Linked DNA regions of Homo sapiens: region 1 is linked to region 2. A link means that fine-mapping ties the variant in region 2 to the expression of a gene that starts in the linked region. Tissue or cell type: lung. Region 2 holds a variant in brackets; the other region holds the start of a gene. All regions are shown on one strand. Distances are between the middles of the regions.

Region 1 (2,826 bases), 61 kb after region 2:
ATCGGTGAGATGGAGGTTCTCTGCTGCTGCATTATGGGGGTGGGGGTGGTGTGGGAAGGGTGCCAGGGATTGGGCACAGGAAAGCACCCCCAGCCCAACTGCTGAGCTGCCAGAAACCTGGAGAGTATATGAGGTGCCACTTTAGGGCATTCCCTGTTTCGTTTCAGGGTTCCTGTATGGAACCTGAGACCACCAAAGGCACGCTGTGGTGCCGAGACCCAGTGCCTGCCTCTCTCAGTAGCACTGTTCCAAAGCCATCAGCTCTTTCCTCCCCTTCCCATCCCCCACCTCTGGACTTAGTTCATGAATCTCCCTCCCCTATTCCCTTCTCCTCTATTGGGCCCACCCAGCTCCACATAGTTTTAGCTCCTGGTACCCTCCAGCACATTCTACAGAGACCCCAGGTCTGTGCTCCACACTCCTGCCTTTCATCTGGGTTCCCAGAAGCTGCAGGGACAACAGAGACCACCTTGTGCCCCACCCACCTTCCTGGGTGGACACCCAGATGCTAGGCTCTGAGACCCCTTCCTATGGAAGCACAAAGTCCCCCCTCCGGGCTGGGCCGCCCACCACTGTGCTGTCCACACCTTCCGGAGGGAGGCAGGTACCTGTGGGTAGAGCTGGGGAGCCCCAGCGCACCATTTCAGGACTTGGAGAAAATAAAATAACCTGGTCGCACCTCAGTTTGCATATCAGTGAAGTGCGATGATAAATAGTACCTTCCTCCCAAGGTCAATTGTGAGGATTAAAACAGAATATTCACAAAAGTCCGTAGCTCTCTAGACTATAAGCGCCTGCTTCATTCGTAGCAGGTGCTGTGACTATTATCATGATTATTTCACCCTAAAACACTTTGAATAGGACAGCGGAAAGACCCTTGACCCCTCCGGGGACAATCCAAGAGCCCCTTGGCTAAAACAGAGCCATGAAGCCCCACTAGGCTGGGCTTTGAGACTAACCTCACCACCACCCTCAACCTGGTGACCCAGCACAGGTTCGCTGTCTCGCTGTGTAGCCCCGGGTGTAATCCATGTCTGGAGATAGAACACTGGAGCTCAGTGGGGCCTGAGCTTTCTGGAGTGAGGGTCACCGCAGGGCATGCACTGGAAATCCAGATCCCTGGGCCGCTCCCTGGGAAGTTCTGATCTAATATGTCCAGGCTCCTTCTGGGATCTGTTTATTAAGCATCAGGATGATTCATATGACTCCGCCGTTGGAACACTGGAGCCTGCGCGGGTGTCAACGCTTGTTCACTTGTTACAGGTGAGGTCACCCCTTTGTCACGCACCTCGGGCCCTGCGCCCTGGTGGTCCAGGGCTGGTGCGGGGGCTTAGGTGCAGCCTCTCCCACGTGCACCTGCGAGGCCTACCCTTTCTCCCGTCTCAGGGCCTTGATGCCCGTGCCTGTGAAGCTGGCATCAGCGAAGACCTCAGACGGGAAGGGATGAGTGAGCAGGTGTGCCCCCAGGGACCCCACGCGCCCCCCGCCCCTTCGCGCACCGAGGTCGTCCTGCGTCTCCGGGATCCCAGGCCAGCGGGAGGAGGGGCCGCAGGGGCGCTGCGGGCAAGGGGAGCCCAGTGCGCAGGGCTCCAGAAACCCCGACCCTCGCAGGGGAGAGCCAGCCGAACCAGACGTGTGGGGGCAGCAGCCGCCGCGGCGGTCTGGGACGCGGGTGTCGCCTTCCACGGGACTTGGGTCCAGGGACCCAAGACGGGGATCTGGGAGGAGGGGGATGCCCTTGGGGCCTGAGACCCGGGCGGTTTCCGAAGCGAAGTAGTTACCCAGAACCGCTCCCTACCTTCTCCCCGCCTCCCTGTCTTTCTGCCCCTCTGTCCCCTGCAGCTGCTCGGCCCTCCCTCCTCTGAAACCCACCGCCCGCCCAAGGCTCACTCCTTCCTGCTGTTCCCGCCCGCGAAGCTGTTGCAGGGACGGTGCGCCCTTGGGCTGCACTCACCACCGCCCCTCGCCCGCGACGTCCTGGCCCCCTAACCCCAGCTTTCCCGCCGCCGCTCACTCCCGCGCTCCGCTGCAGCTCAGCCCGGTCTGCAACTCTCCCTCTGTTTTCTGCCCCGCTCCTCAGTTCTGCGCTCTCCTCTTCTCCAGGCTTCCCTCTCCTCCTCCTTCTGCCTCTCCCCTGTCCCCGTTCCATTCTCCTGCGCCCCTCGCCAGCGCGCTCGCAGCCCATCGGCTCCTGCCGGGGCCCCTCTGGTGCCAGCCGCCTTCAGGCTGTGGGTCCGTCCGCTGGTGGAGGGGAAGGTCGGGGCTGGCCCCGGGCCCCGCGCTGCTGGGCCCCATGGTCAGTGGAGACGCCTCCTGGTCTCCCTTCAGAGCTCCTCGTCGTCGTCGGAGTCATCGGAGGACCAGGAAGGAGGACCCCCCACCAGCTGCCGCAGCCTCTGCTGCGAATCCCCCCACACCACACCTCTCACCCCAGAAGCACAATTATCATTGCCCAGCCCCTTTCAGACAAAAGGAAGAGCGCGGTGGGGATGATCAGAGGGAACCCTGACTCAATTCATGGTGTGCGTGCGTGCGTGCGTGCGTGTGTGTGTGTGTGTGTGTGTGTGTGTGATTGATTGATTGATTTTTAACTAGAGGGGAAAAATTCCTAAGAAAATGGGCAAAAATTACAGATTGTCCCATTTTTGTCCAGTATTATCATTGGAAAGGGAGGAAGATGAAGAAAGAGCCAGTGTTTGTGGAGTTTGTTTCAGGCTAGAAATAGAAAAAGGCTGCAGTTGATTAAGGAGGTGGCCAGAGAAGCAAAGTTTGTTGAACGCTGAAGATCACCTTGTAAAGGTGGAGTTCCTCAGGCTTTACTCCGGG
Region 2 (2,500 bases):
CTACAACTCAGTTCCTCATCTCCAAAATGGGGGTGTCTGTCACAGCAGTACCCCTCTCACGGTTCTCCTTCGGGAGACTCAAACAAAATAATGCACTTAAAACTCTCAGCTCAGTGCTCTACACATGGTCAGGGTCAAATGTATTTAGCTCTTATGACTGTTATTGTTGCTGTTACCATTGGTGTTGCTGTTGTTGGTGATGGTGATGGTGTTGGTGTGTTAGTGTTGTTGGTACTGTTGGTGTGTTGGTAGTGATGGTGATGGTGTTGGTGTTGCTGTTGTTTTTGGTAGTGACGGTGTTGCTGTTGGTGATGATAGTGTTGTTGTGCTGGTGTTGGTGCTGGTGATGTTATTGGTAGTGATGGTGTTGTTGGTGTTGAGGGTGATGGTGTTATTGGTGTTGGTGATGGTGTTGTATTGGTGTTGATGATGGCAATGTTGGTGATGATGATGTTGATATTAATGATGTTGATATTATTGTAGTTAGTAGTGATAAAGTTGTTGGTGTTGGTGGTGATGGTGTTGTTATTGGTGTTGTTGATGATGATGATGTTGGTGGTGGTGGTAATGGTGGTAAGGATAAAGGGCAGGGGAGGGGAATGCAGACCTGATGCTAGGGCCAATCGCATTTGAAGGTGGCTCAGCCTCTGGTCTGACCAAGGGTCACTCCCTTTCATCCTCTCTGACCTTTAGAGCTTACAGCACCCCACCTCATTCCCACTACCTGCCTCTCTCTTTCTCCTTAAAGCCTTCCCTGGACCTTCCAGCCCTCACCTTCCTTCAGCCTCTGAATCCCTGAGTGGTAAGAACTCCTCACACAATTGCACATCACCTCTTTTTCCTCTTACTCCACTCTTGTCAGCAGTGGGACCTCAGAGTGCCAGCCAGAGCAGACACAGGGGCTTTGGGGCAGCTGATGGAGTGGCCTTAACTCAGTCTCTTA[A/C]CTTTTTTGATCTCGATTTCCTCCCCTGTGCAGAAAGGTGATAAGGAGACTTTCTCCATGGGGCTGAGAGCCAAGAATCCCTACTTGGAGCAAAGTCTGTCATCTTAGTTGTTTGTAACTCCAACTCCCAGGACCCAGCACCATATGGAGCACATGGTAAGGGCCCAATAAATGTTGGACATAAGGAATATAAGAGAATGAAAGGCTGGGTCTGTATTTCTGGGTGGTCTCTTCATTTCTTTCCAGAGAGAGAGAAAAAGAGAGAGAGATTGTTGTGTGGATTTTATGTGAACACAGCAAAGATTACTTTCTGTGAGGAGGTGAGGGTCATCCACCCACCCACCACCACCCATTCACCCATTTATTCATCCACCCTTCCACCCATTTGTCCATCCATCCATCCATTCATCCACCCACCTGTTCGTTGAAATCATATTCCCATCAGGTGCCAGGCACTGGCTAGTCTGGCTTTGAGGATTCAGCAGTATTTCAGCACCTGCTATCTCAGAACCAAGGTTGGCCCAGAGGAGACCCTGTGGAATGTTTGTTGAATGAATGAGTAATTTTTCTTCTGAAACCAAAATGGAATGCTTTTATATTTTGAATGAGTAATTCTTTGAGTAAATGAATGGATTGGTGAAACAATAAGTGGTGTTGGGATAGACTAGTTCCAGGAATCCAACTCCATTATCATCTCAGGCCTCTGATATCTTGGCTCTTTGGCTCTGTCTGTGATTGCTTGGCAGCTTCAGCACTTGTCAGTCTCTCCCAGGAGGAGGGCAAGCCCTGGGGCTGGCGGGTTGAGAGGTGTCTTCCCAGGGCACATGGTGCTGCTCAGTGACTGGGGACTGTGCTCTTTCTACACCTTGTGGGCCCTTCTCCAAAGGACCCACCCCCCAAGGGGACCCTTGTCCATGAGTTGCTTCCTCTTCTCCAGCCGAACCAGTTGGTTTCTAGCCCACCTCCGGCCATCAGTGCAGAGCAGGGCTTTAGGGAGTTGGGGCACCCACCCTCAGTATTCCACTCTCTTCTGCATGAGGTAAATCTCCAGTCATCAGAAGAAACAATAAGATGAAAAGCTGACCACATTGTAATGCTCATTAGCACAAAAACCCACAGCTGCACTTGATATTGGGGGTGGTAGGGGGGAAGGCCAGGAGGGGAGGCAAGGGGGTCCTGTGGATTGCCCACCTGTAGCCTGTGAACTCACCAAGTGCATTGAAAGGGGAGCCTCGTTTGTTAAGTAGATGATGATCAATGCCACATCTGATGCCCGATTGGAATGGGACAGGCCTGGAAAGGGCCTGATTGGGATGAGCAGTGTCTAGGGTTCCGTCTCCACCTGCACCTGCAATGGGGTAGGGATGGAAAGGGGTGGGCACACTCTAGGCATGTTTGGCTCTATCTGTAGTGGGTGACCCAGCCTTCCCATCATGCCACCCTTTCTCACCACTCCTGTAGGAGCCCAGACTCCCTGCTTTCGAATCTCAGCTCCTTTACTGCTTAGCTGCAGGCAGGTGAGGCCCAGATCCCAGGAGAGGGATTAGACCCAAGCTG

The links. PIP is the estimated chance that this variant, and not a neighbour inherited with it, causes the effect.
Region 1: it holds the start of LINC01081, and the variant in region 2 is fine-mapped to the expression of LINC01081 in lung (TOPMed, PIP 0.98). The same link has a PIP of 0.9 or more in sigmoid colon.

Annotation. Positions count from the first base shown.
Region 1 is chr16:86,285,095-86,287,920 of GRCh38, forward strand. LINC01081 (long intergenic non-protein coding RNA 1081) reads right to left here and starts at 1,153. Exons shown (of 6, transcript NR_104139.1): 1 at 960-1,153. LINC02135 (long intergenic non-protein coding RNA 2135) reads left to right here and starts at 1,337. Exons shown (of 3, transcript NR_038438.1): 1 at 1,337-1,455. RefSeq lists an enhancer at 57-742.
Region 2 is chr16:86,224,487-86,226,986 of GRCh38, forward strand. It overlaps LINC01081 (long intergenic non-protein coding RNA 1081), which reads right to left. Exons shown (of 6, transcript NR_104139.1): 4 at 2,154-2,291; 5 at 1,361-1,476; 6 at 1,094-1,181. Among named protein-coding and RNA genes, the nearest start is that of LINC01082, 30 kb to the left of the region's middle. The variant A/C (reference allele first, on the strand shown) is at 944.